Homo sapiens: one gene and its partners. The protein of the gene in region 1 purifies or fractionates together with the protein of each later gene. This does not show direct contact. Each region holds a gene or a part of one and is shown in the gene's direction. Other genes may lie near its edges.

The links.
Region 2: the proteins of SRPK1 (region 1) and RBM27 purify together in Homo sapiens (affinity purification with mass spectrometry; 3 studies listed by BioGRID and IntAct, with this or other methods). This does not show direct contact.
Region 3: the proteins of SRPK1 (region 1) and DROSHA purify together in Homo sapiens (affinity purification with mass spectrometry; 4 studies listed by BioGRID and IntAct, with this or other methods). This does not show direct contact.
Region 4: the proteins of SRPK1 (region 1) and ACIN1 purify together in Homo sapiens (affinity purification with mass spectrometry; 3 studies listed by BioGRID and IntAct, with this or other methods). This does not show direct contact.

Annotation. Positions count from the first base shown.
Region 1 is NC_000006.12:35,883,080-35,890,098, reverse strand, and holds part of SRPK1 (SRSF protein kinase 1), read left to right. Parts: intron 1-1,175; coding exon 1,176-1,284; intron 1,285-1,987; coding exon 1,988-2,075; intron 2,076-3,287; coding exon 3,288-3,375; intron 3,376-7,019. UniProt on the Homo sapiens protein: Serine/arginine-rich protein-specific kinase which specifically phosphorylates its substrates at serine residues located in regions rich in arginine/serine dipeptides, known as RS domains and is involved in the phosphorylation of SR splicing factors and the regulation of splicing.
Region 2 is NC_000005.10:146,198,829-146,206,612, forward strand, and holds the start of RBM27 (RNA-binding protein 27), read left to right. Parts: upstream 1-4,776; 5' UTR 4,777-4,937; coding exon 4,938-4,996; intron 4,997-7,784. Other genes in the region: RBM27-POU4F3, read left to right, coding at 4,938-4,996. UniProt on the Homo sapiens protein: May be involved in the turnover of nuclear polyadenylated (pA+) RNA.
Region 3 is NC_000005.10:31,529,076-31,537,039, reverse strand, and holds the start of DROSHA (ribonuclease 3), read left to right. Parts: upstream 1-4,946; 5' UTR 4,947-5,050; intron 5,051-5,514; 5' UTR 5,515-5,590; intron 5,591-6,115; 5' UTR 6,116-6,242; intron 6,243-7,934; 5' UTR 7,935-7,964. Other genes in the region: UPF0489 protein C5orf22, read right to left, coding at 1,147-1,296, 1,989-2,081, 2,623-2,768, 4,567-4,647. UniProt on the Homo sapiens protein: Ribonuclease III double-stranded (ds) RNA-specific endoribonuclease that is involved in the initial step of microRNA (miRNA) biogenesis.
Region 4 is NC_000014.9:23,092,137-23,099,866, reverse strand, and holds the start of ACIN1 (apoptotic chromatin condensation inducer in the nucleus), read left to right. Parts: upstream 1-4,754; coding exon 4,755-4,892; intron 4,893-5,082; exon of another isoform or gene 5,083-6,215; intron 6,216-6,322; coding exon 6,323-6,388; intron 6,389-7,730. Other genes in the region: CIROP (ciliated left-right organizer metallopeptidase isoform 1 precursor), read left to right, coding at 378-585; uncharacterized protein C14orf119, read right to left, coding at 1,786-2,208.

The DNA of each region.
Region 1 (7,019 bases):
CTCGCTCTGTCGCCCAGGCTGGAGTGCAGTTGGCGCGATCTCGGCTCACTGCAAGCTCTGCCTCCCGGGTTCATGCCATTCTCCTGCCTCAGCCTCCCGAGTAGCTGGGACTACAGGCGCCCGCCACCATACCCGGCTAATTTTTTGTATTTTTTTTTTTTTTTAGTAGACACAGGGTTTCACCGTGTTAGCCAGGATGGTCTCGATCTCCTGACCTTGTGATCCGTCTGCCTCAGCCTCCCAAAGTGCTGGGATTACAGGGGTGAGCCACCGCGCCTTGCCGTTTTTTGTTTTTTGTTTGTTTGTTTGTTTTTTGAGACAGAGTCTGGCTCTGTCATCCAGGCTGGAGTGCAGTGGCACAATCTCAGCTCACTGCAACCTCCACCTCCTGGGTTCAAGCGATTCTCCTGCCTCAGCCTCCCGAGTAGCTGGGACTACAGGCATGCACCATGACACTGGCCAATTTTTGTATTTTTAGTAGAGACTGGGTTTTACCATGTTGGCCAGTCTGGTTCTCAAACTCCTGACCTCAGGTGATCCACCCACCTCGGCCTCCCAAAGTGCTGGGATTACACGCGTGAGCCACCATGCCCAGCCTTAATTTTTGTATTTTTAATAGAGACAGGTTTCACTATGTTGGCCAGGCTGGTCTCGAACTCCTGACCTCAAATGATCCGCCCTCCTTGGCCTCCCAAAGTGCTGGGATTACAGGCATGAGCCACCGTGCCTGGGCTGTTTTGTTTTGTTTTTATTTAGAGAAAATCCCGTTTGCTTACTTGCTTTTTTTTTTTTGCTAAATAAACAGAATTATTCTGTCTCCTAAAAAACACCTGAGACTGTAATTGTAAATAGATATATATGTTTAGATAAACCTATTGAATTATTGAGAGACAAGAATATCATGATATACAACCTTTTTATTGTTTTTGGATGAGACTGTTGTAGGCTCAATCTAAATCATTAATCTTACTCACTTTTTTTAATAACATGAATTCAGTAATACTATGTGGCTGATTTGACTATTAAGATTTTCTTCTGTTGAATTGATTGTATAAAAGAAACTTTTTATTGATAAAAGGTATATAGATGTTGAAAAATGTGATGTTAAAAATGCCTTTTCTTACCATTGTTTCTCATCCTGGTTTTTCTGATTGTATTTCCCCTGTTTCTTCCAGGAGGTTATCATCTTGTGAAAATTGGAGATCTATTCAATGGGAGATACCATGTGATCCGAAAGTTAGGCTGGGGACACTTTTCAACAGTATGGTTATCATGGGATATTCAGTAAGTTTTAGTGGTTCTGTAAAAGAATTAGTTAGATGATGTCTAAATGTGTTTGTCTGAGTTTCCACTGCTGATCCAGGCTTCAATCTATCTCTAGCCTGATTCATTTATCAGAATTTTGTTGTTGGCAATAGTCTCTGTATTCTTGGAGAAACCACTTTTCTTTCGTGAAGAATCAGTATTATATATCTCCCTTTCTACTATAGAGACAGGAGTGATTAAATTAATGCTGGTAAAGCTTTTGTCGTTTGATTTTTTTGTGATTTTTATCATTTTCTTTTCACCGAAGTATTTCTTCTGGCTGCCTATGGGAAAATATTACAGCTTTTAACCTTTTAGTTTTTGCCTATATACAGATATATACACAGAACACTTGGAATTTGGTAATATCTTTCCCCTTATTTATCCTCATTTTGCAGTTTTGCTTGTAACTCAGGGAGATATTCAAAAGAAGGATTTTAACTCAGAGAAAATGTTCAACAACTGAGATTATCTGAGAACAGATTTTTTATTCTTCCTATAAATGAAATCTGGCCAGTTAGTGTCATTAACAAGTATAAATGTTCCCATAGAAGTAGCTTGTTTGGGCTACAGGGAAACGTGAAATCAATATTTGTCCTTTTTAACCATCTTATAGCTAAATCTTAGCTTCCTAAAGTAAGGGTAGGCTATGTAGTCTTAATTGCCTGTGTTTGTTTCTTAGGGGGAAGAAATTTGTGGCAATGAAAGTAGTTAAAAGTGCTGAACATTACACTGAAACAGCACTAGATGAAATCCGGTTGCTGAAGTCAGTGAGTATTAGATTATATGTATGAATGTGAAGAATTATAAATAAATCAAGTTTCATTGAATAAAAACACACCAAGTGGAGGCTCTTTAGCATGGATAATTTTCTCTATAAAGTTCTAGTAACCTTAAAGAGGTAAAGGAAGACAACAATATTTACACATACCATGCATGTAGTAGGGAACTGGTGGCAAATGCTATGATGAGAATTCTTCTTACACGCATGAACCAAAAAAAAACCTTTCAAATGAATAAAAATATTCACTGAGCATGTTTTACAGGCCAGGTAGCTACTGTCATAATGTTTTTTTTTCCTACTATGGTTAAAAGGAAAGTTGTGTAAATAAATGTATAGCATCTTTTTTGTTGTTTTTCAAATATGTTATAGAATACATAATATAAAAATACTGTATTTACTGATTCCATTTATACCTGGAAACTGAGATAAATTCTATCAAAAATGTATTTTTAGTTCTGTTTTAAATTAGGAATATGCCAGTGTGGTAGAAGGAACTTAAATTCAGAATTAGAAAACCTGGGTTTAGGTCGCCTTTACCCCGGTATGTCCTCCATGTTACCATTTTTTTCTTTCTGAGTCTCAGATTTTTTATTCATAAAGTGAGAATGTTGCACCAGGAGATTTCTATGGCAGTAGTTTTCTTTTTTATTTTCAACTCCTGGCCTCAAGTGATCTGCCTTAGCCTCCAGAGTAGCTGGGGTTACAGGCACAAGCCACTGCATCTGGCTTAAGACAGTACTTTTCAGAATGTCCGTTTGTGACAAGATAAGGAGCCTTGTACCTACCCAAAAGTAAATCAACATACTGTTTTCTTCATTGAGAAAGTTTTTCCATGAAAAAAAAAATGTCCGCTGAAAAAAACAGTGTGGTTAGTGCTGTAGTTGATTTGCATCCTGCAAAATCTTCTTAGTTCCTCATAGCCTGGTAATCATCAGTTAATTTGGAGGCCACACTTTGATTGATATCAGGGAGCAAAATAGTTTAATTAGAAAAATAGTTCCTGTTGGTTGTATTTCCTCTTATGAATTGACTATTTAAGATTTTTCTCCATTAAAGCTATTGAAATTTTAGTATATTTTAAAAATAGATTTATGTGAGCTCTTTCTTGTAGTTAATTTGCTGTAAGTATTCTTCCCCTACCATCTGGTTTATTTCCATGCTTTACCTTGTGCTAAACACTGTCTCTTCCCCACTACAGGTTCGCAATTCAGACCCTAATGATCCAAATAGAGAAATGGTTGTTCAACTACTAGATGACTTTAAAATATCAGGAGTTAATGGAACACGTATCCTTTTAAAAACCTATTTGAGAATAAATCATCCCAATCCCAAAGAAAGGAACTAGATTTGTTGTGTAGATGGCCTTGGTGTCTTTTCTAAGGCAAACTATAATAAAATTACCTCTTTTATTGTACACTTCTGAACACACATCTGAATTTTGTCTAATTTTGTGTGGTGTGATTTTTCAGAATATTGCTTTAAGCTTCTTGTCCTCTTTTCAGGCAAATTAAAGCGAAATCAAAGGAAACTTTTAGAAAATGCGTTGTATCACTAAGTAAAGAGTCTATGATTTTTGTCAGTTAGCACAGAAACTTTAAGGGAAGTAATTTCTTATGAAAAATACTGAGTAGGCCGGGCACGGTGGCTCAAGCCTGTAATCCCAGCACTTTGGGAGGCCGAGGCAGGTGGATCACCTGAGGTCAGGAGTTCAAGACCCACCTGGCGAACATGGTGAAACTCTGTTTCTACCAAAATACAAAAATTAGCTGGGCATGGTGGCAGGCTCCTGTAATCCCAGCTACTGGAGAGGCTGAGGCTGGAGAATCACTTGAACTGGGGAGGCAGAGGTTGCAGTGAGCCGAGATTGAGCCCACTGCACTCCAGCGTGGGGGACAGAGCCAGACTCTGTCTAAAAAAAAAAAAAAAAGATACTGTCTAAAAGAAAGAGAAAAAGAGAGAAAGAAAAAGAAAGGAAGAAAGAAACTGGATGAACAATTTAAGGTATGATTGTATTTATTATACTAAGCCTCAACTTTGAAGAGGCTGTGAATGTAGTTTATGTTTAGAGTCTAAAAGGGTGTAATTGTTCACATTCTATTATAATGAAAAACTGACTTGTTTTATGTTTTTATCTGGATGTTTTAGAACTGTAGAATTGAAAGGAACCATAGCTGATTTTCTTCACAGGTATCAAAGTGACGTGCGGTGAGCTAATGGAAAGGTTATTGCAACAGCTGTGCTTATAAAGGTCAATCAGATTTTTCAGTAAAAGATGAAGTCGAATCTTACTTAGATTGGATAAATCTAAAATCACCTGTTTATAAGCTGTTTTTAAAATGTATAAAGACATTTCATACATTATTTTACTTTTCATGCATGTTTAGCTTCCTTTAATGCACATTCCTAATTGCTGTTGATCTTTTTGTATTTAAAGGAGACAGGACTACATATGACTAGTTTCATGTAGACTATGGGAAGAGATTTGAACAGAGAAGCAGGAAGGAAGGGATGGGAAAGGAGAGAGAACAGCTGATAATGTGGAAAGACTATTGTTCTAAAGTCAATTCTGAGTCATTTCTTAGAAAAATACAAATCACAGATTACCCAGATGTCTAAGGAAAACTGCTGCAACCATCTTAAAACAGTATCTTGTGCTTATTGTGGTCACTTTGTAGATGGCTCTCTCTCTCTCTCTCTCTCTCTCTCTCTCTGTGTGTGTGTGTGTGTGTGTGTGTGTGTGTGTGTGTGTTCAAAGAATTAAGAATTCTAAACCAAGTAATTTTTTAAAAACCTACACAGGGTGTCGTGATGGCCATATCTGTTTTTTCTATTATTTAATCTTGTAATGTTTGTCATTGTGCCAGATTTCTTTACTAATTTGCAAAAGTTCCAAGTAAAACTATAGAAATACTCTCAAATCTCCCCAGTAATGCTGAGTACCTTTATTTGACCCTAACTAAGCAAAGAAGGCTTTTTAACTATTGAAATATCTTAGTAGGTTTGAATTTCAAGTTCCAAGATATTTTTCTTTTTCTTTTTTGGAGTTCAATGGCATAATCTCGGCTCACTGTAACCTCTGCCTCCTGGGTTCAAGTGATTCTCCTGCCTCAGCCTCCCGAGTAGCTGGGATTACAGGTGGATGCCACCACACCCAGCTAATTTTGTATTTTTAGTAGAGATGGGGTTTCACCATGTTGGCCAGGCTGGTCTCAAACCCCTGACCTCAGGTGATCTGCCCGCCTCGGCCTCCCAAAGTGCTGGGATTACAGGTGTGAGCCACCGTGCCCGGCCCCCAAGATATTTTTCAAACATTGCTAGGTGGTTTCTCTGTAGCTTCTGTCCATTGATTCCCTATTTTATTCTTTTCTCCATTTGTTCTTAGCCATTTTTTCCTGTCTTTCTTCATCCTTATCTCCCAGCTGTCTTTGCTCCTGCATTATTTACTACTGTTAGAGATTGAAAGGATATAACTCAAAACACTATGTTAAGGGTTAGTAATGGCTCATGTCACTCTCCTGCCTCTACCCGTTTTCCCAACATAACATACCCACACAGAGCAGTACATCCACATTCGTGTGTATGTTTGTTCAGGCGTTTTTTTCTCTGGACCACTATCGTTTCTCATATTAAAATATAAAGGGCCCTAAACTAGAAAGTTAGTTCTTACAGAATTCCATATAAACTGGCTCACTCTACTTGCCTGGAGGGTGAGGGGAAAAGAATGATTAAGAAGGAGGACAGTTGGTTTCTCTATATAATGTTGACATTAGCCAGTCATTATTGTCTGCTTATATGACCTCCTATGTCTTTAGGATACTTTTTTTTTCATGCTGTATTCTGTCTGTTTTGCTAGCTCCTCTTATTCATAATGTGCCCTAAATGTGCTTACTCAATAACATAAGCCTTTTATTTTCAGCCTTTTGTTATTTTCTTTACACTGTCTCCCCATTAGATTTTTTTAAAAATATAACCTTGTGGGCCGGGTGCAGTGGCTCACACCTGTAATCTCAGCACTTTGGGAGGCCGAGGTGGGCGGATCACGAGGTCAGGAGACCGAGACCATCTTGGCTAACACGGTGAAACCTCATCTCTACTAAAAATACAAAAAAAAGCTGGGCGTGGTGGCAGGCGCCTGTAGTCCCAGCTACTCAGAAGGCTGAGGCAGGAGAATGGCGTGAACCTGGGAGGAGGAGATTGCAGTGAGCCAAGATAGCGCCAACTGCACTCCAGCCTGGGCGACAGAGCAAGACTCCGCCTCAAAAAAAAAAAAAATAACCTTGTGATTTCAATTACTAGTGCTTCTGATTGCTACTCATTAGCTTTCTTTCACTCAAATTATTTGGCTCTTCCTTTTTGCCACTTGATTATGATGTTCTGTCAAGTTTTTTTTTAAGCTACTATATGTTTGGTCATTTTAATATCACTGCTTACAAATTAAAACATTTTCAAATTGTAATACTTCTCTCAACAAATAAAAATTAAGCAGATGGAAGCTAGAAACATAAGAGAATAGCTTTACAATCCTATTTTATGTTTAGTCTTTTTAAGTAATCTGCATTTTAAATAATCTTGTTTTGATAATTTTTTTTATTTAATTGCTTTTTTATTTTTATTTATTTTGAGACAGAGTTTCGTTCTTGTTGGCCAGGCTGGAGTGCAATGGCGCAATCTCGGCTCACTGCAACCTCCGCCTCCCAGGTTCAAGCGATTCTCCTTCCTCACCCTCCCGAGTAGCTGAGATTACAGATGCACACCACCACGCCCAGCTAGTTTTTGTATTTTTAGCAGAGACGGGGTTTTGCCATGTTGGCGATCCACCTGCCACAGCCTCCCAAAGTGCTGGGATTGAAGGCATGAGCCACCATGCCCAGCCTATTTAATTGCTTGTTTAAAAAAATTTCCTGGCCAGGTGCAGTGGCTCACGCCTATA
Region 2 (7,784 bases), on another chromosome or scaffold:
TTTAGAAGACACACACACACAGTCTTCAAAAAGTTTATGGAAAATGTGTATTATGAAAAAACTATGCATGGATTTCAAATGTTTTTAACAAAATAAACTCATACGAACTTGTTACAACATTTCTAAACAGGATCTAGTTTGAGGCCCTAAGAGGGATAAGACATCAGTTTGAAAAGGGCCTCTATTAGAGCAACATGAATTCTGCTAAAATTGAAGAAAGAACAAACATCAAATTTTTTGTGAAGCTTGGGTGGAATAATGGTAAATTATTCATGCTTTACAAAAACCTTATGGGGACAATGCCCCCAAATAAATCAGCAGTTTACAAATGGATAACTTGTTTTAAGAAGGGATAAGAGAGTGTAAAAGATGAAGCCCACAGCTGCAGATCATCCACATCAGTTTGCAAAAACAAAAAAAAATTAATCTTGTTTGTGCCCTAATGGAAGAGGACCAACAATTAACAGCAGAAACAGCAGCCAACACCATAGACATCTCAATTGGTTCCACTTACACAATTCTAACTGAAAATTAAAGTTGAGCAAACTTTCCACTTGATGGGTGCCAAAACTGCTGCAACCAGATCAGCTGCAGACAAGAGTAGCTTTCATTGGAAATTTTGAAGTGAGATCACAATCCTGAAGCATTTCTTCAAAGAATTGTAACAGGAGATGAAACACGGCTTTACGAGTACAATCCTGAAGACAAAACACAATCAAAACAATAGCTACCAAGAAAATGGCAATGGGCTAGTCAAAGCAAAAGCAGACTGGTCAGCAGCAGAGGTCATGGCAACAGTTTTTTTGGGATGCTCAAGGCATTTTGCTCGAGGGCTAAAGAACGATAACATATGCTTATTATGAGAGTGTTTTGAGAAAATTAGCTGAAGCTTCAGCAGAACAACATCTGTGAAAGTTTCACCAGAGATTCCTTCTCCATCTTGGCAATGCTCCTGCTCATTAATCTAATAGCCGGGTGCGGTGGCTCACGGCTGTATTCCCAGCACTTTGGGAGGCCGAGGAGGGTGGATCATGAGGTCAGGAGATGGAGATCATCCCAGCTAAAATGGTGAAACCCCGTCTCTACTAAAAATACAAAAAATTAGCTGGGCATGGTGGTGGGTGCCTGTAGTCCCAGCTACTTGGGAGGCTGAGGCAGGAGAATGGCGTGAACCTGGGAGGCGGAGTTTGCAGTGAGCCAACGTTGCACCACTGCACTCCAACCTGGGCGACAGAGCAAGACTGTCTCAAAAAAAAAAAAAAAAAATCTGGTCAAACAAGGGCAATTTTGCAAAAGTTTTGATGGGAAATCATTAGGCAGCTACCCTGCAGTCCTAATTTGGCTCCTTCTGCCTTCTTTTTGTTTCCTAATGTTTAAAAAATATGTAAAGGGTCCCATTTTTCTTCAGTTCATAATGTAAAAAAGACTGCATTGACATGGCTAAATTCCCAGGACTCTCAGTTCTTTAGGGATGAACTAAATGCCCAGTATCATTTGTGTGGTATCACTTGTATGTTCTCAATGTGCCTGGAACTTGATAAAGCTTATGTTGAGAAATAAAGTTTGTGGTTTTTATTTTTCTTTTAATTGCACTTTTCCATGAACTTTTTGAGGTCCCTTCTGTGCATATGTAAGTTTGGTTCTATTTTTCTTTTTTTACCCAGCCATCAACTTGACTTTATAGGTAAGTTTAGTTCTATTCAGTTTACCACCCTGTAGTTCCTGTATCCACCATCACAGTCAAAAATCAAAACAGTTCCAACACCAAAAGTGTCCCTCATGTTGTACTTTTATAACCACACCCACTCTCCCTTGGTTGGGAAGGGGTCTCAGTTGTCTCAGTTCCTCTCAACGTGGGCCTCTCCACAGGGCTGCTAGAATGTCTTGAAACATGATGACTAGCTTTCCCCTGAACAAGAGATCCAAGGTGGGAGCTAGGGTTTTTTTTTGTTTGTTTGTTGTTGTTGTTTTTGTTGTTGTTCTTGTTGTTGTTTTTTGGCAGAGTCTCACTCTGTCACCCAGGCTGGAGTGCAGTGGCTTGATCTCAGTTTACTGCAACCTCTGCTTCGCAGGTTAAAGCAATTCTCGTGCCTCAGTCTCTCAAGTAGCTGAGATTACAGGCATGTGCCACCACACCCAGCTAACTTCTGTAGCTGTTCGAAGTGAAGGGAAAATGTGGATAAACTTTAAAAAAGGAGGAGGAAGAGGAGAGAGAAAAGAAGAGGCAAGAGTTGCAAGTGAGAAAGCTCTTGGCTTGCTGTCAGAACCTCTGGATGCTACTTCTACTCCATAGAGGTGTAATTCTGGGTAAACCACTTGCCTCTCTGGACCTTTTCTTTCATTTGCAAAGTTATGAGGAGGGGGTTAGTGAGGGAGGTTCATTACATTATTTTTAAGTGCACCTCTGCTTTTACTACTTTATGTAAGGGGTTTACAAACTGTGGCCAGCAAGCTAAACCCTGCTGGCATCTTCTTTGTACACCTGTGAGGTTACAATGGCCTTTACATTTTTATTTGTATTAATTAATTAATTAGAGACGGAGTCTTGCTCTGTTGCCCAGGTTGGAGGGCAGTGATACCATCTCAGCTCACTGCAACCTCCACCTCCCCAGTTCAATCGATTCTCCTGCCTCAGTGTCTGGAGTAGCTGGGATTACAGGCGTGTGCCACCACAGCCAGCTAATTTTTTTTTTATTTTGAGACAGAGTCTTGCTCTGTCGCTGAGGCTGGAGTGCAGTGGCATGATCTCGGCTCACTGTAGCCTCCGCCTCCTGGGCTCAAGTGATTCTCCTGCCTCAGTCTCCTGAGTAGCTGGGACTACAAACACGCGCCACCACGCCCAGCTAATTTTTGTATTTTTAGTAGAGACGAGGTTTCACCATGTTGGCCAGGCTGGTCTCGATCTCCTGACCTCATGATCCGCCCACCTCGGCCTCCCAAAGCCCTGGGAATACAGGCATGAGCCACTGCGCCTGGCCCACGCCCGTCCCATGCCCGGTTAATTTTTGTATCTTTAGTAGAGACGGGGTTTCACCATGTTGGCCAAGCTTGTCTGGAACTCCTGACCTCAGGTGATCCACCCGTCTGGGCCTCCCAAAGTGCTGGGATTACAGGCATGAGTCACCGTGCCAAGCCCCCCCTTTTTTTTTTGAGATGGAGTTTCTTTGGCTCTTGTCACGATCTTGGCTCACTGCAACCTCTGCCTCCTGGGTTCAAGCGATTCCCCTGCCTCAGTCTCCCGAGTACCTGGGATTGCAGGCGTGTGCCACCATGCCTGGCAAATTTTGTATTTTTAGTAGAGACTGGTTTCACCATGTTGGTCAGGCTGGTCTGGAACTCCTGACCTCAGGTGATCCACCCGCCTTGGCCTCCCAAAATGCTGGGATTACAGGTGTGAGGCACCGCGCCCAGCCTGGCCTACATTTTTAAATGGAGAAAAAAATGAAAAGATAATATTTCATGGTATGTGAAAATTATATAAATTTAAAATTTTATATAATTTTAATAAATGTTTGTAATACAGCCACAATCATTCCATTTACATATTGTCCCTGGTTAATTTTAAGCCAAGACATTGTATGACGAGTAGTTGCCATAGATACCTCAAGGCTCACAAAACCAAAATATTTAGTATCTGATCCTTTGCAGAAGTTTGCCTATACCTGTTCTATGTATATATAGGATGTCTGTTTATTTGAGGTTGATCCATTTCTTTTATATGAGGTGCGTGCTCATTAGGTATTTTTCAAAATGTTATTACAATGCATAACCCCATAAACTGTTCATCATCTTAAGAGGAGAAGCTCTGTTTTGCTCAGCATTGGACTCCTAGTGCCTTACTCAGTGCTGGCAATTGCAGGGACTCAGTATATGTTATTGGGTAAACATTTTAACATCAGTGCTAAATCAGTGATTTCAAAACTCCAGAAAGAATTTCTCACCTACTAGAAAGTAAGTTGACTATTTCAGTAGTTTCTAATTTGTCTTAAAAATTTTTTTGTAATCCTTCTTTGCTGATTAAAATTCTCCCTTCCCGTCCCCCAACCACTGAATTTTAGATATACAATGAAAAGATAATTAAAAACAAACTATTGGAGTCATTTTTCTTCCTAAATAAAGCAACATTTATTAATAGTACTAGCAAAATTGAAATGGCCTCAGCCTTTTACATCCGTGCGCCACGTTTTAAAAATGACGATTACTGGATTCCAAGGCATGGTTGTCAGAAACATTCTGCGTAATTAAAGCAGAGCAGCAGAAAATACAAACGTGAGTGCCAATCAACATGAGTGTGTAAAGAAAAAAAGTAAAATTTTGCATTCTGTGCAATGTGTCGAACGTGAACGTATTGCACGTTGTGTTGCAGATTTACTACAGCTGAGTCATTTCGGGACACGAGTGTGTGTTTCCAAGAAAAACGAGAGGAAGGAACCAGGCTGAGGGGCTCGCCGGGTTCCCCCAGGCACTCCCAGCAGCAGACACCGGTATTCCGCGGCGGGCGGCGGCGTGGTCAAAAAAAGGCGCCGCTGCCCCTTTAAGAGGCAAAGCACCTTTTCCAAGATACCATCTTGCACCAGGAGTTCACTTAAGCTCTCCACCTACCTTGCTATATCTCTCCTCCCTGACTGGGTACCGCCTGCCGGCGGGGCGAGCGAGCCTTTTCATTGGTCTTGCCCTCAGGGCCCCCTCTCTCTTACTGGTTCTCAGGCCTGCCACTCGGCACTGTCTCCCGCCCACCTCAGCCTTCGGGCTAGGTTGAGTGAGGGCTCTTGGGTTAGTTCCTGTTAGGCCCCGGCCGGGGGAGTAGGTTGAAGTCTCCTAAGATGCCCGGTGGGCTGGGGCACCGGGAGCTGTGAAGGGAACGTGAGGGGGCGGCGTAGTGGAGACCCACGGCAGGCCTGAAGAAGAGCGGCGGCCGAGCCCGCCTTCCCTGCACCATGCTCATAGAGGATGTGGATGCCCTCAAGTCCTGGCTGGCCAAGTTACTGGAGCCGATGTGAGTGAGCCGGGCTGGGCCGGGGCCGGCGAACGTGGGCGTTGGGGGCTCGCGGGGGCGTGGGGGAGGGGAGGTGGCGTGGGGGGCGGCGCTGAGGGGCCGCGGCCGGGAGGTCCCGGCGACGCCTTCCCTGTAGTACTATCACCATTGTGGTGGGGGTGAGGGTGGGAGAGGAGCGCTGGGGACGGAGAGGCGCCGTGAATATGGGGACTGGGGGGGCAGGCAAGGACAGCGAAGGCTTTTCAAACGCAAATATCGGGGTGCTGGAAGGGGTAGCAGGGGCCGTGAGGGAATTTAAAACATTGCTGTTTGAGAACTGAGAGAGAGGTAACGGGGCTCTTGAGGGATTTTTAAAATGTGAATATTGAGATGTCGAAGGGAATAGCAGAATATCAAGGGTTTGATAAACATTATTATTCCGGGACTGAAAGGTCTAGAAGCAAAATATCGAGGGCATTTTCGAAATATGAGGGCAGAAGCGGATAGCAGGGACATTGAAACTGTATAGCGATTATTGGTAAGTTCTGAGGGATCAAGAATATTGAAGGATTTGAAAAATACTATGGAGTAGATGAAAAGGATGTGTGGGCATTGAAGGGTTTTAGAAATTATTGGGGAGGTGATAAGTGTGATAGCAAGGATATTAAGGGATTTTAAAGTATTATTGAGGGCTTGATAGTGCTAGGGGAACTGATGACTTTTAGATACATAGAGGTTGGAAAAAAGAGGTTTCTGTAAGTTTAGTTGAAGGTTGAAAGGGCTACACTGGTATGCAGCATTAATTGGTGGAGGAGTATACCTAACAGTATGTAGGGATTTTTAGATACAGGTGGTGTTGGAGGAATAAAAGGAGCGGTAGAAAGAATAAGAGATTTGTAAGTATTCTTGTGCCATTGAGAGGACAGTTTTGTAAATGTTTTTGTAAGATTGAGAGGACACCTGAAGATAATTGGGGTGTAGTATGAGGGACCGAAAAGAATGAGAGACCTGTCTTTTAAAAATATTTTGGGTGGTGTTAGTAGAAATGTTATTGGGAGGCTTGAAAGAGGTAACAGATGTATCAACATTTTGTTTTATAACCTTTTTTTTTTGAAACAATGTCTCGCTGTGTCTCCCAGGCTGGAGTGCAGTGGCTGGATTTCGGCTCACTGCAACCTCCGCCTCCCGGGTTCAAGCGATTCTCCTGCCTCAGCCTCCCGAGTAGCTGGAACTACCGGCGCGCGCCACCACGCCCAGCTAATTTTTGTATTTTTAGTAGAGATGGGGTTTCGCCTTGTTGGCGAGGCTGGTCTCGAACTCCTGACTTCAGGTGATCCGCTCGCCTTGGCCTCCCAAAGTGCTGGGATTACAGGCGTGCGCCACTGGACCCGGCCATGTTTGATAACCATTTTAAAGGGTAGAGTTGTGGAGTGCTTATTTGGGGGAATGGGGTATGGCTAGTTACTGGAAGGGAAAGAATCATGTTTTGCCTCCTCCTTGCTTCTGCTTTATTATTCTCTTATTGAAGGTTAGAGCTTTCTGCTTGAAAGAAAGGGGTAGAAGAAGAGATGGGCAGGCTTTGATTCATTAGGTCAGATTGCATTAGTGGAAAATTTGAGTGTTTTTCGGAGGTGAAAATAGGGAGTAGTTTGGGAGGTGTGGAGGCATGGTAAAGGAACTTCTGGGGGACAGTGTCAAGCTACTTCCCTGTTGATCTCTTTCAGTGAAAATGACTGAACACACTTGAAGGTTTTGTAGAAGAATATAGGTCTCTTGAATAGGGGTTTTTTTAACTCCTACAATAAAGTTTTGGGCACAAAGATGGAAATGGTTTGTGGTGAAGGTGGGAAATAAGATGGATGTAATGAAATTGACCATATATGGGAAAAGGTTGAAAAAAGAAAAATATCTGTATGTTTAAAGTATTCTTCATGTGGCTGGGCACGGTGGTTCACGCCTGTAATCCCGACACTTTGGGGGGCCTAGGCGGGCGGATCATGAGGTCAGGAGTTCAAGACCAGCCTGGCCAATATGGTGAAACCCCGTCTCTACTGAAAGTATAAAAATTAACCGGCTGTGGTGGGGCGTGCTTGTAGTCCCAACTACTCGGGAGGCTGAGGCAGAAGAATCGCTTGAATCCCAGGAAGTGTAGGTTTCAGTGAGCCTAGATCAGGCCACTGCTCTCCAGCCTGGGCAACAGAGCCAGACTCCGTCTCAACAAAATAAAAATAAAAAAAGTGTTATTCATGTTATTTAAGATTAAAAAAGAAAAAATACATCTCTTTATTTTGTATTTCTGCTGCTCTGATGCCTTTAGAAAAAACAACCTACTTTCCAGACAAGTTTAGTTTTGTTGGTAGCTATCCTTTTAAGAAGAATTAAACATACATTTTATGTCTTGGATAGAAGGTAACAACTTTTAGCCTTATAGTTACTTGCTTTTTCTTTTTTTTAAAGCTCCCTAAGATGTTTTACTCTGAGTAGTGCTTTTCGTTTTTTGTTTTTTTTTTTTTCCCCTTAATGTTGAAGGTTAGTCTGGGTGGGAGCTTCTTCTTGCTTAGGCTTTTTTTTTTTTCCTTCTTTTTTTTAAAGCTACTTAGACTCATAAGTATGATCATTCTGTAATTTTCATGAGTAAAAATTATCTTTCAAAATGATTACTTGAGTTTAGTTTCTCCTTTTGAGTTATATATTCAACTTAAAGTTCACATGCTTATTTTTTTTAATTTTGTTGCTCATTTAGGGTAAAAAAAAAAAGGCTAAAATACTTTATTTGTTTGTTTATTTATTTATTGAGATGGAGTTTCGC
Region 3 (7,964 bases), on another chromosome or scaffold:
AATACAATTTTCATATATCACAACAAAGCTATTTGTGCAAACGACAAGATTATATACTACAAAAGTTAATTGTATCATTAAGAATAAATTAGAAATAAAGTATCATTTTCAATGAGGAAGACTATCTGATTTTCAACGTATTACCATTTCACTCCATTATCCTTAAGGTTCTAGAAAGTTATGGCTATACTGTTTAAAATATTTATCCCATCACAAGAGAATTTTAAAGTCAAGAACATATTGATATTTCTGAAAGTATTATAGTATCACAAGATACACAAAACATTGTTAAATAGCTTATACAATAAAAACAGTTGCATATTTATCTCAAGTCAGAGGATACTGTAATTTACTTTAGATTAAGTACTTATCTGAAACTAATTATATTATAAAGAAAATTAAAGCCCCAAATCTACTTATTCAGCAGTTGGATTTATAAAAAAATCAAAGTGAGATAATTTTGCCCTTTCACTGCTAATTACTGTTTTTTTGTTTGTTTGTTTTTTGTTTTGTTTTTGAGACAGAGTCTCACTCTGTTGCCCAGGCTGGAGTACAGTGGCACGATCTCAGCTCACTGCAAGCTCTGTCTCCTGGGTTCACGCCATTCTCCTGCCTCAGCCTCCTGAGTAGCTGGGACTACAGGCGCCTGCCACCACGCCCGGCTAATTTGTTTTTGTATTTTTAGTAGAGACGGTGTTTCACCATGTTAGCCAGGATGATCTCGATCTCTTGACCTCGTCTTCTGCCCACCTCGGCCTCCCAAAGTGCTGGGATTACAGGCGTGAGCCACTGCGGCAAATTCAGCAGACAACAGTTATACTGACAGGAAACAGTAAAATGTACTACTGAATGTATAAATCTATAAGATACTTCAATGGCTTAAGGAGTTAATCACCAATGAAGCCCAAATTCCGGAGGATAATGATCACATTCAAAATCTAATTTGACCAGCAACTAAATATAAATGGTACATGAAGAATATCAAGAGACTTAAAAGTTTGTTCTTCGTGTTTTGAGAACTCTTTGGAGAAGTCGAGGCTTAATCTGACCCTATTTGTGTGCAGAGACTTATGAAGTTATTATAGGAATCCAAAATAAGATAGAAACATTCAATCACTTCCATATTCACAAATATGAGGAAATTACCTGATTGTTGTGGTAGAAGTGTCTTTGCCTACTAAAAAGTGGTGTCTGCCCTCTCTGATCTGCTGAGCCCATGTGGGATGAAACCATATTACATGTGAAAAATGGCCAGCATAAACTGCAGGCATAATCCAATTTTCAATACTTAATTCTCTGGAAAAGAAACATAGAGACAACATTAAAACTTTTATTTTTATTTTTTCCCAAGTGTAATTTTATCCACAACATTTTAAGACCACAGGTCTCAAAGTGTGGTCCCTAGAGTGGTTCCTGAGACTTTTTCAGGGACATCACTATTACAAAACTATTTTCATGAAAATACTAAGGCATTATTTCCTGTTTTCATTTACTGACATTTGCAAAGATGGTGCAAAGGCACTGGTGGGTTGATGTTCCAACATTAATTAAGGCAGCAGCACCAAACTGTTAGTAGTTACTATATTCTTCATTACCAACCACTGCCAAAATAAATAAATAAATAAATATAAAAGTGTCATTCGAGAACATCTTGATTTTATTAAATTTCCATCCTGAGTATACATTTTTAAATATTATGTGTGGCAAAATGAGAAATGCACAGAAAGCTCTCCTGCTACATAGTTTGAAGCATAACAGTTGTCTCAAGGAAAAGCACTTGTGATTGAACTTTGAGGTGAACACCATTTATCTTGAAAGGAGTGGTCAAGAAACTATGGTTATTCACACTTGATACTGAATTGCTGAATTCTACATTTCAAATAAGCTTTAATAAACTACTACTTTTCAAGTTTTGGCGCACTATCAAAGAATATTCACAATTATCTAAAAAGGCTATCAAAATATTCTTTCCTTTTCCAATTACATGCCTGTGAAAGCCTGAATCTTCATCATATATTTCAACCAAAACAGCATATGGCAATGGACTAAATGCAGAAATAGACGTGAGAATCCAATGGTCTCTATAAAGGCAAATATTAAAAGGATTAAACATTGGCTAGGCTGTTTTTGTAAACAAAGTTTTTTTGGTTTGTTTCTTTTAAGAGATGGGGTCTGGTTATGTTGCCCAGTCTGGAGTGCAGCAGCTATCCACAGGCTTTGATCACAGCCTGGAACTGCTGGCCTCAAGTGATCTTCCCACCTTAGCTTCCTGAGTAGCTGGGACTACAGGCTCATCCACCATGCCCAGCTTGTAAATAAAGCTTTATTGGAACACAGCTACTGTCATTTGTTTACACAGTGCTTGTGATTGCTTTCACACTACAAAGGCAAAGATTAATAGTTGCAACAGAGACCATATAGCCAGCAAACCTAAAATATTTGCTAATCTGGCTCTTTAAGAAAGTTGTCAACACTTGTTCTAAATAAAATGAAAAAGACAAAAAGACAAACAAAAAACCCCCAAACCCATGAGTTTAGCAAAGTCTATTTCCTATAATTGCTTATTATCTACTGCAAATTGTACTTCAAACACAAAAGACCATAAATAAAATCACATATTACCCAAAGAGTGTTTCCTTATCAAACACGGTGTCTGCTGGCATATTCACAGGAATAAGGAGGTCTGGATGTGAGTCGAAATGTAAAAAACTTACATTACTGGCAGGAAGATGCTTTGAGCCTATGGCCCGGTATATAAAGGGTAGAACCTGTAAAAGACACAGGCACACAATAAGAATTAACACTGAAACCATGAGCACACACTCAACTGCAGACTGAAAAACAATGCTAAATAATGCACATAATTGAAAGCATACTATGTTGCTGTAAAGTGGAAAAACATAAAATTTGTTTACTGTAGATGGTGCAGATGATAATCTCAAGCATTACTTTGTCCTCAGAACTTCCAACCTGCATCTCCAGCGGCCTTCCTGCTGCCCCCTTGAACTCAACAGGTCATGTGGGGAAACAGACCAGGACTGGGGCTCAGGAACAAACTACCGCTTAATGCCTGTTCTAACATTAACTAGGTGTTCAAGGTACCCTAGGTCTCAAAGTATTCTTTTTTTTCCTTTAAAAAGGGATAGGGGCTTGTCAGTTGCCCAGCCTGGAAAGCAGTGGTGTGATCATGGCTCACTGCAGCCTTGGACTCCTGGGTTCACACGATCCTCCCACCTCAGTCTCCTGAGTAGCTGGGATTACAGGCACGCACCACTACGCCCAGCTAATTTTTTCACTTCTATTTTTGTAGAGATGGGATTTCGCTCTGCTGTCCAGGCTGGTTAGGGTCTTTTTGGTACACTTAGAATGGTGGGGTTGGGCTAGGTGGTCTATAAAGGCCATTTCTCCTCTTACATCTTCTCTAATTCTAGGTTTAATACCTAATTTGAAAGCACCGTCTAACCTAGGCTTTCTCATTCTCTCAAGGTCATAGACACTATATCCAGGTCCTGAGAAACCTATCTTCCTCTCCTATTAGCTGTCACCAACAGTAAATCCCTCTTCTTTTTTAACGTCCAGAGAACTGCCTCCCATCCCAAGCCTACTGATGCTACTTTAAAACATATTTATTAGATCCATGGGCCTCCTTTGTTGACTTGGAAAAGTCTAGATTAAGACACCAATTTGGCTACTGTAAATCAGCACGGCCATAAACATGGAAACCCCTTTTAGTGTTTATCTATGCAGGGCACCGTGTTAAATTTTTTTTTTTTTTTACGCAATATGGGCCGTGCGCAGTAGCTCACGCCTGCAATCCCAGCACTTTGGGAGGCCGGCGGGGGCCGATCACGTGAGGTCAGACTTTCAGACCATCCTGGCTAACGTGGCGAAGCCCCGTCTCTACTAAAAATACAAAAATTAGCTGGGTACGGTGATGCGTGCCTGTGATCCCAGCTACTCAGGAGGCTGAGACAGAAGAATCGCTCGAACCCAGGAGGCGGAGGTTGCAGTGAGCCGAGATCGCGCCACTGCACTCCAGTCTGGGTAACAGAGAGAGACTCCGTCTCAAAAAAGAAAAAAAAAAGATTTTTAAACACAGTATGCACACAATAATACTCCTAAGAGCCCTGTGAGTCCTACGATTACTGTCCCCATTTCAGATCAGAGCCCACGTTCCAAGCATAAAGCCTCCCATCTAAACAGCAGGGCTGTGGTGGCGATTCCAGGAGATACTTGGAAGCCAGAGTTAACTGCAGGTTAAGAACACAGGGCTCTGCAGCCAGACTGTCCGGTTTCGAATCCCGATGCCACCTTTTGTTTGGTTCTGGGATTTGGGGGCAAACCGAGGTAAATAAGTTGCCCCGACTCGTAGGAAGCGCCCATAAATGTCAGTTCTCATTCTTCCTAGTTAGCTGTTTTGGGGTCCTCTCCACAGCAACGGAATAGGGCAGTTTAACTCTGGTTAACTCTCTGGCCTCCGATGCTAAGGTTGCGCCCTCTGCTTGGCCCTCTGAGCGTCAGGGCTTCCGCTGATTCTGCCCCAGAGCCCTGTTGCCGTCCGCTCACCTCCTGATGATCCTCCACCACCCACACTGGGAGCTTGGGGTAACGCCGGAGACCAGCGCGCCCTCCCGCGGAGTCACTCATGTTTTTGCGCCCGTCAGTTTTGCAGTAAAGCGGTGGCAGCTGGAGAAGACCCGGGAAAGCCGGCGCCTCATCCCGGCCAGCTCTCTCCGGGCGGAAGCGCTCCCTCACCCGGTTGCGTTTTCGGATTGGAGGACGTAGGGGGAGGGGGCGCGGGCTCCAAAGGGTCTTTTGCTGACGATTGGTCTAGACGTCCATCGCTTTCGTTGACGCGCCAATCACCGCGCACAAGGCCCTGCGGTGGGCTGAAGAGTTTTCCCTCCCTTGGCCCAGCTTTCTCAGGTTTGCTTTTTAATTCCCTCGGTTTCCTGTTCCGGAGGCGCGGGCGGTGCCACTGTCTTGGTACCTGCGGTAGTAGCCTGGCTTTGCTCTGACGGCGATCTCGCGGCCCGAGAGCCTTTTATAGGTAAAAGGGGTACCTTGCAAGTGTTAGAAGAGAGTTTCCGAGTGTCAGGATTTAAACGGGGCTGGAGTCTCCGGGGCTGGGGTGAAAAGCGTCCGGGAATTGGGGTCGGGCAGCCCCACTTCAGATCTGCAGCTAAGGGCAAAAGAGCGACGCTAGGCCTGGATCCCGCAAATAAGTGGAAGTGAAAAAGGAGACCTTTCATTCATTTGTGGAGCACACACTATGGTCCAGGCCTGGGGCCGCCCGGCTCTCGGAGGGGAGTGAGATCCTGAGCTCAGCGCCTGCCTCGTGGGGCGTACCGTCTGGCGGGAGATGCAAACAGTAAATGTGCAGTTATGGATCAGGATGAAGGTGACTGCCCTGCAGATCCACCTGGGGAAAGAGGGAGTTCTCAATAAAAATGTAGTCACACTTTAAAATTCTTTTTACATGCACTGACGTTCTGGCCGTGTTAACTATTCAAGACAGCTCCTTCAGTGTCTCTGTTTCCAAACCGCAACCGAGAAGAGACAGACGGAGAAAAGAGAGTTACTTTTCCAGGTGCAGTGAATTCCTTGACTTTTGAATTAAAGTCTGCATCCACAACACAGCCGGACTATGCCTTCAATAGGTCAATTTCATGATTAGTATTTTTAGATTTTCTAACTACTGAAACATCCATGAGGATCTGGCAGTGAATGTTCAGCTCTTGTTACACACTGTACAAGAGTGTTCGTGACCCTGACTTTTGCCCACCTCTAGGTGCGGCACACACCTTTGTGTTCCCCTAAGCCCTGCACATACCTCTTTTTTGTGTGTTTATTGCATTATTTTGTATTTTTAAAACACTTACTTGTACGTGGGTTCTGAGTTCCTTGAATCCTACAGGCTGTGTGTCTTATTATCTCTGAGTCTACAGGGCCTGGGACAGTGCTTCCCATTTATGGGCTCATTAAATATTGCATGACTCAGTGAAAAGGCCTGCTTTCTGTTGCGGAGGTACATGGAAGGGAAATGTACAGTAGCAACATGGAAACATACTATTGGTGAGAGAGTAAACATTTATTGACCACCTACTGTGTGTAGGTTGCTTTTCCCGGGGATGTGAAGGATACAGAAATGACTGTGAATCAACCCATATCATCAAGGAGCTGATAATCTAGTGGAAGAGTTAGACGTGTGCATACTTCACTATGATATGAGGCAGTCTCTGGTAAGTGCTGTAAAAGGATTAAGTATAGACTAAGTCTAGAGGGAATGGGATTACCTAAGGGAATCAGGAAGGGCTTCATAGAGGAGGTGGCATTTAAGATTGATAGATGGATAGAAAATCACTGGGCAGATTCATACGTTGGGAGATTTTTTTTTTTTTTTTTTTTTGAGCTAGAGTTTCGCTCTTGTTGCCCAGGCTGGAGTGCAATGGCGCGATCTGAACTCACTGCAACCTCTGCCTAGGGTGGGAGATTTTAGAGAGGAGAACGGGAGCAAAGAACTAGCTGGTTCTTTGTACTCGAATGGTAATCTGTTGGGAAAACATGGGGTAGTAGGGTCTTTCTGGGGAAGGTACTGGAGAACAAGCCTGGGTCCAGAGTCAATAGAGCCTTAAATGCCAAGCACAGAGGTTGAACTTGATTCTGTTGGCAGTGAGTAGCCTATGGTGGCAGGAGCACCTGTCCGGGCCCCAGGTTTATCATGAGGGTACTGGACTGGATAATAGTAATAAGGAGTCAGGCGCAGTGACTCACGCCTGTAGTTCCAGCTATTTTGGAGGCTGAGGTGAGAGGATTGCTTGAGCCCAGGAGTAAGAGACAGCAGTGAGCTATGATTGCACCACTGCACTCCAGCTTAGGGACAGAGTAGACTTTGTGTCTTAAAAAAAAAATCAGATATTATTTGGTGCCTATTATTTATTAAGCACACTGACTGCTAGCATAATCTGAAATTATTTTCATGAGCCATTTGAAAGTCTACATAGTAAAGTTCTATTGATGAGACTTTTAGAAAGACTTTCAGAAAATGTTTCTATGTTACAGCTTTTTGTACTCAATATTTATGTGAGTTTTTAAAAAATGTTTTGCTGAAGTTCAAGTATTTGGAAAATCATTCATGTTTACAGTGTTTTTATGTGGGAGGAACTGAGAATGAAAATTAAGAATCATTAACTGGTGTGTTAACAAGATTCTGGTTATGTTTGAATTTGAATGCTGGTCTCACTGTGATTTTTGTGTTTGGTCTATGCCTACATGGTTTGTTTTTTTTTTTGTTTTTTTTTTTTTGTTTGTTTTTTTGAGACTGTCGCCCAGGCTGGAATGCAGTGGCGCCATCTCGGCTCACTGCAAGCTCTGCCTCCCAGGTTCATGTCATTCTCCTGCCTCAGCCTCCCGAGTAGCTGGGACTACAGGCGCCCACCACCACGCCCGGCTAAGTTTTTGTATTTTTAGTAGAGACAGGATTTCACTGTGTTAGCCAGGATGGTCTCCACCTCCTGCCCTCGTGATCCACCTGCCTCGACCTCCCAAAGTGCTGGGATTACAGGCGTGAACTACCATGCCCGGCCTATGCCTACCTGTTTTTACCATGAAGGAAACGAGAGTATGAAGGGGGAGAGGGGAAATGATATTTTTCCCAAGTCTTTTAACAAATTAGAGATGATCTATGCCTATAAGTCTTTTTAGCTGCTGATAGTTTTGAGTTGGCAAAACTAGTAATAATGACATTTTAAAATTTAAGGACATTAAAAATTTAGTTGGAAACTTTAACACAGTTCAACATGCTTTTAATTTTGTTTGTAGGCTAAGTGTATTGGAAACTACAAAATTAGTGTTATGGTAATTGCAGAAATATTTTGTAGCATTGGCAGTTTGGGAAACATGTTTATGTCTGTTTTATTCTTTCTGTTTTTTAGAGCTTATATTCTCTGTGGAAGATGTGACAT
Region 4 (7,730 bases), on another chromosome or scaffold:
TAAGATGCTAGAAGACTTAGATCTTGATCTTATTTCTACTTTAAGGTTCGATAGTCCCTCTTAATGATTTCCTGTTTAGCTTAATGCTTGGATGAGGCGGGGCTTCATGAGCTCTATCTTTAAGGGTAAAGCCCCTTAGCCAGACGTGGTGGTGCGGCGTGCGCCTGTAGTCCCAGCTATTCGGAAGGTTGAGGCAGGAGAATTGCTTGAGCCTGGGAGGCGGAGATTACGGTGAGCCAAGATCACACCACTGCACTCCAGCCTGGGCAACAGACCAAGACCTTGTCTCCAAAAAAAAAAAAAAAAAAAGGTAATGCCGCTTTATCTACTAAGGCTAGGCATTATTCCATGCCAAATATTACCTTCTATGTTCCTAGGTTGCTGGTTACTTCAGACCATAATCCCTCCATGACCCACCTAAGGCTGTCCATGGGACTCTGCCTAATGCTGCTAATCCTGGTGGGTGTAATGGGAACCACAGCCTACCAGAAAAGAGCCACTCTTCCTGTGAGACCATCTGCCTCTTACCATTCACCAGAGCTCCACAGCACAAGGGTCCCAGTTAGAGGAATAAGGGAGGTGTGATGTTGCCCAGAACATGACAGGGGGTAAGGAAGAGAATAATTTCTTGTGAGACAACTGGATGGAAAATCTATTGTGTATACTTAATTTCTACTTTCTTTGGAATGCCTCTTTCCCCGGTTGTCAATATTATATAGCCTGGCAATGAAAAAAGGGTGAAGTTTTACAGTTCTAAAGATCCATTCTTTATTTTGGTACAAAAATAAATTGTTCAACCTGTAAATTGTCACTTATTTTCGTATTGTTGTAAAGCAAACTTACAGAATAGGAACACCTGCTACCAGTTCCAAGAATATCACATACATATGCCTTAGAAAAAGGCCAGGTATGATGGTTCATGCCTGTAATCCCAGCACTTTGGGAGGCCAAGGTGAGAATGGATCGCTTGAGGCCAGCAGTTCAAGACCAGACTAGAAAACGTAGCATGACCCCTGTATCTACAGAATAATTTAAAAATTAGCCAGATATTGTTGTGCGGGCCTGTAGTCCTAGATACTCAGGAGACTGAGGCAGAAAGATTACTTCAGCCTAGAATTTGAGGTTACAGTGATCTCACGCTCACTGATGATCATGCCACTGCACTCCAAACTTAAGTGACAACCCATGTTTTTAAAAAAAAAAAAAAGTCACCGCGAGTTCGATTCAAACAGTGTGAAGGAGGAAGCAACTAATTATCTCCCTCTCCTGATTTTTCATAATTTTATTAAATCATCACTGGGAAAACTAATGGTTTGCGTATCACACAATTACACTACAATCTGATAGGAGTGGTAAAACCAGCCAATGGAATCCAGGTAAAGTACAAAAACGCCACCTTTTATTGTCCTGTCTTATTTCTCGGGAAGGAGGGTTCTACTTTACACATTTCATGAGCCAGCAGTGGACTTGAGTTACAATGTGTAGGTTCCTTGTGGTTATAGCTGCAGAAGAAGCCATCAAATTCTTGAGGACTTGACATCTCTCGGAAAGAAGCAAACTAGTAGACTGATGAGCTGGATTGCTTAGATTGATAACATTTACAAATAGGAGTCCAGTTGACATGCTATTAATGTTGAAATAACCATGCCTGTACTGGTCAGTGAGTTCGGTCAGCTGGTTGGAATACCAGTTCCAGAGCTTTAGGCGACACATTTGAATTGAGTTATCATTGTAGAGAGTCATGGCTCCATCAGCTATGGTTATCTTCTTTGGTCTGAATGCCTATCAGTCCTTACCAGCTGTAGCAGCCACTGCTTGGTAAAACTTTGCCACGAAGTCTGGCTCACTGAACTCCAGCTGTCTGACAAATTCATTGCGCTCCTGCTCAGCCCAGCCTCGAAACCACTGATCCCAAAGATGTAGCTGGCACTCAAAGATAGAAGGTGGTCGGTCTGCCCCAGACACACTAAGCTGCTCCAGACTATCCAGCAGTGGTTGTAATTTTTCTGGCACTGCCTTAGCTACCAGGTCCTCTAGGAAACGTTCACGCTGGGGACCTGACCAATTGGCAAACCAGTGAAGAATACACTTCATCTCCTGGGAGGTGATGTAAGACATCAGAGGAGGGGAAGGGTTAGTATTGTGTGGTACTGAGGGTAAGAGAGATGGGAAGGATAGTGGCATTGAAGAGGATGACTCCAGTGGCATCCTGAAACATAAAAGCACTGTTATATGCTCTCCAGGTAGAGCAACGAAAATACAACTTTCAAGCAACAAGACATCTTACCACACTCAATTAGCATCTACAGAGAAAATTACTTTTTATGAATTCAAAGACCCAAAATAATAAGAGTCCTTTATTTAGATTATTATCCAACTACCTTAGAAAAATCACCAAAAATAACTTCATTTCCTATTTGCCTGCCTTTTTCAAACCCATTCTTCCCCACCCACTGTCTTCCTCCATCTTTCTTATAAAGAACCTAAAAATAACCAATATATTTCTTGTTCATTCTCTTCCTCTTACTTCTATGTGCCAGGTTGGGTAAAGAAAAAAACAATGATTAATGTTGGTCCATTACATCTTCTCCAAAATGAAAATGCACACATTTTAAAATCTAGTACGTGCAGCTGGTCAAGGCTGATGCTAATTGTTTTGCAGCTATCAACAGTGGGGGAAGAAAGAAAAAACATTATTTATGATGAAAGAGCCTTCAATGTGCATATAAGCCTCTGAAATATGCCAACAACTCCATAACATCCGTTACCTCCTTACATTTCCTGTAAAGCACCAGGAAAAGTTAAAAAGCAGAGTAAGGACCTTGCTCAAAATAAGGTAACGCATGAAAGAACCAGAAGCCCGGGTGTTTGAGACGTTCTTAAAAAAGAGTCCAGTTGGTTTGTTGGCTTAGAGATCTAACAAGTGTTATACTATTTTATGACAATCCATGTCTTTAAACAATTGTCCTTAATATTTAGTATGGGCCAGACGCGGTGGTTCTTGCACTTCCAAAGTAATCTCAGCACTTTGAGAGGCCGAGGCAAGAGGATCGCTTGAGCCCAGGTGTTCGAGACCAGCCTGGGCAACATGGCAAAACCTCATCCCTACAAAAAATAAAAAAATTAGTTGAGCGTAGAGGTGCCTACCTGTAGTCCTAGCTACGTAGGAGACTGAGGTAGGAGCATCACCTGAGCCCGGGAGGTTGAGGCTGCAGTGAGCCCTGATCGCGCCACTGCACTCCAGCCTGCGTCAGAGTGGAGGGACCCAGAGTGGAGTGACAAAAAAAAAATTTTTTTTTTTTTTTAGTATGGTATCTATTGGTGCCTTGCAATTTTTTTTTTTTTTTTTTTTTTTTTTGAGACGGAGTCTTGCTCTGTCACCCAGGCTGTAGTGCAATGGCGTGATCTCAACCACTGCTTCCTGGGTTCAAGCGATTCTCCTGCCTCAGCCTCCCGAGTAGCTGGGACTATAGGCGTACGCCACCACGCCCGGCTAATTTGTTTGTATTTTTAGTAGAGACGGGGTTTCACCATATTGGCCAGACTGGTCTCCAACTCCTGACCTCAAGTGATCCGCCCGCCTCGGCCTCCCAAAGTGCTGGGATTATAGGCGTAAGCCACCGCGCCCGGCACCTTGCCACTGATTTTGCATCATGAATGCAACGGAAAGATCAGCCAATTTGACTTTAATAGTTTTCAGTCTCTTAAATCTCTAACGTATCTCTTAAATCTCTAAACTATTTGTCTGTGACCTATTTTACTGTTTGTGTTTCTTCTGCATCAAGTTGGAGGATTGGTAGTGACAAAGAAAGAAGCCCCTAAACAATTAATATTAGTTCAAGTACCAAAAAAGTTCAGGGCGCTTGCATTTTCCAGTTCTTGCCCTACAGGAAGCAGTTCCTCCAAGGGAACTTACTCTCTTCTGCGGAGCAAGGAAGAACTTTCCCAGAATCTTGCCACATGGCTTCCAAGGCAAACTCAAACTCAAGTTCAGCGTCATAGATCAGTTCATAGTCTGGGTCCGAAGACACGGCGATGCTTCTTGCGCACCCCCACGGAGCTTGTTATTCCGATTCCGCACCAGCCCCCCGCCCCTCCCCAAAAAAAGCCTAAGATGGGAGTGGCTATGATTCAGAGGACAGAGGGCAGAAGCTGTTTGCGTTAAGGAGTGGGGGGCTTGCCCTATTAAGGTAATCCGCAAACACCGAGTCTGACCCGGCCCATAGAGGTACTTCTACCCCGCTTACCTCCCCTTTTCTCTCGAAGGGCACCCGAAGATTGTCACGAGTCCTTAGACTCCAACTACTGCGGCAGCTTCCAAATTTCCTGAAAACCCTAAGCTGGGCCAGCCCGGCAGCCCACGCACTTCCGGCCTCGGACCCGCCCCAAACACCCAAGCGCCCCAGCGCCTCATCTCTAGGTCCGGAAATAAACGAACATCTCCGATTATGGTTATACCAGGGTCGAGGGTTTCCGAATATATTCGATTCAAAGCTTCGGCAAGACGAAGAAAACCGAGCCTGAAAGCAGGGCGAGAAAAGGGGCGCTGCAGGGCGGATGGAAAGAATTGATTGGTAACGATGTGGAGACGGAAACATCCGAGGACATCCGGAGGAACCCGGGGAGTTCTGAGTGGTAATCGAGGGGTAGAGTATGGCAGTGGGCGGGGTCATCTCGGTACGTTCGAAGGGCGTTGGCGGAAATTACCGAAGATGCCCGAAGCCGTCGGGACGGACCCGAGTACCTCACGCAAGATGGCGGAGCTGGAGGAGGTGACTCTGGACGGGAAGCCTCTTCAGGCGCTGCGGGTGACCGACCTGAAGGCCGCACTGGAGCAGCGAGGCCTAGCCAAGAGCGGGCAGAAGAGTGCCCTGGTCAAGCGGCTCAAAGGGGTGAGGAGTCGGCGTTGCTGGGGTGTCGGAGGAGAGCGGACCCGGTAGAGACGAGCCTCTGCCGCGGCGCAGGCGCAGTATCCGGGCTCGGCGCGAGCTCGCTCAGGCCGCCAGCGCGAGCCTCTGGATCCGCGCGCACGGTGGTTGATGAGGTTCGCGCTGGAATGGAGATCGCGCCGGTTCCCGCCTTAACGGCAGCAGCGCGAGCCCAAATGGGAGGGTGTGCACTACTCTCCAGGAGTGTCTTAAGCTCCTTCCTCCTTCCCCCACCCCCTCCTTGTTTGTATCTGTGGTTTCGGCGCATGCGCTGCAGAAGGAGTTAAATCCCACTACAACCTACGGCGTTGCTGGCCTGAGGGGGGCGAGTTGGGCTGGGTCGGAGTTAGGGGTATAGTTGCGCGAAGGGGTGGATGGGGTTGGTATCGGTATCTGCACGAATAGGACTGGGGTAGGGTAAAATGTCTGCTCGATTAGATGAGGAGGTGAGATGAAGAGAGACCTTTATTTGAAGGGACTTGATGAGAGAGAGGTCTCTAATTTAGTGGCATCTAGTGGCAATTTGGGTGGTTAAGAGTTTGGTGAATATTGGTGAGAGAGGCGAGGCAGGTTGATATATATTGGGGATTTTGAATCGGTTTGAGTAGATTAAGGTGGGATTGTCATGAGGTAGGTGTAGCTCGATTCAAGTGTATAGGTTTGGTTTAAAGAAGGGAAGATGAGGATGTCTTGGTTTTAATTAGAGTTCAACAGGATACGTGGCAGGTAGTGCAGATTAGGTCTGGGTTGGCTCCAGGGTTGAGTTGGCAGACCGTTGCTTATACAGAAGCTGATAGTTTTGTGTGTGTGTGTTTGTGTGTGTGTGTTTGTGTGGATAGACTAGGTTAGACCACAGTTTACAGGGTCTGTGGTCATTTTCTTCTGTAGCTTCCTCTTTGAAAATTTTATAAATTTGATAAATCTAGGTGCCACAGTACTGGAAATTATACAAATTGACCCTGGTACTGGGTAACCCTTTGACCAAGTAATTCCGTCAGGCAAAAACCAGGAGCCCCATGGCTGGTTTGAGTATTTTAAGTAATTTTACATGCATGATCAGATTTAGAAGGGGCACTTGGCGAAAGTGCAGAAGATAATAGGGATTTTAGTACTGGTTCTATTACTGATATTATGACATAGCCAGGTCACTGATTCTGTGTGCCTGCATTTTATATCTGTACATTTAGTAACAGTAACCATGGCTACCTTTATGGGTCTTCTGAAGATGAATGAGAACAGTGTTAGTAAAGGGTTTTCAGGTCCCTGGAAAAGGAATACAGTTTAATTGTGTGTATTTAAGTCATTGCGTTTAATTTAGAGGTTGTGGTAGAGGTGGGGGTTTGTTTTTCTTTTTTTTCCTCATCATTTCTGACTTTTACCCTTCTCTATACCAGGCTCTAATGCTAGAAAATTTACAGAAACACTCAACACCCCATGCTGCATTCCAGCCAAATTCCCAGGTGAGAAAGAAGGTGTATTCAATGGAGTGGGCCCTTTGGATATCCAGACACATGGAAGGACGTGGTGTTGTATATTTGATGCTTAAGTCCTCATGACTGTTTTCCTAAGTTCTCTTAGTCAGAAATGTTCTCAAACCAGGACAGTTGAATTCTAATCAACCCAGTTGTATACAAGGGCCTGGAGTAAAGAACAGAATCAGAGGCACTGTTAGTTTATAATAATTGAAATGGCATGTGTAGAAAGGTGTGGCTTCCATTAATTACGTGTAGTACAGAGATCTGAAGTCATTTATCTGCCATGAATTTAGGAAAGGTAGTTGATGTCTTTGAGTATAGATATGAAGTAGATCACCAATATGGCAGTGTAGGGAAATAGTTGCTGATTAAGAACTCTTGTTGATGTAGATTTTCCAAGGGTTCAATCCTGTGTAAGTCACCCACCATTACTAGTGTTAACTACTAACTCAGTGCACTTACTCATAAACATTACTAATACCTCTTTACTTAGGATAAGAAACAACCTTTGGAGGCCTTGGTCTTCTCCATTTCCTTATCTGTAATATGAGAAACAGACTAAACCCATGGGTTTATAACTGTTCTCTTAGGGTTTTGTGGAGCTGCTTTGGGGAGCTTCCTAGGGGAAATACCTTTTTCCCAAGTAAGCAAGGCTCATACTCCTCTCTTAAACTAGATTAGATCTACTTTTTAACTATTGAGTTTCTGCATAAAATTTTTAAATTATTCCACAGTTAAAATCCAAAAATTATTAGGCTGCACAGTCTCTTAAAGTTTCTTTCAGCTTTTAAAAATCCCCTCATTATAATGTGTCATATACTTAAAGGAAAAATCCAAGTCTTTGTTAAAGCAATAGTGTGCAGCCTCAGTACTAGATGAAGTCTCAGGATACTGTGGAAAACAAGAGAGCCCTCCTCCTCCTTTGTTATCACCTCATTAAGCTGTAAGTATCATAATCTAGCCAGCATTCAGAGGTTCAATTAAGTACTTTAACAAGCATAAGAAACTGCATAAGTTAATCAGCTTAATTGTATTCCTTTTGCCCATTGCATGTTAGTCTTTGAAGCTTTGCTTTTATTAACACCGGGTTTGTGCAGCAAACATGCCTATTCTGTAATACACATGCAACCCACCCTTCAACAATGTCCATTGAGTGCCAAGAGACTCATTTCTACTTTAGGTGAAAATAAACCTTTACTATGTTTAGGAAACATGACTAATAACATAGAAAGTATTCAGGTTTTTTTGCTTTTTCAGTTCTAAATAGGACTTGCTAAGCAAGAAGGTTCTAGGGAGGAGAACTTGTGAAGAGAAAGCTGGAGGTCAG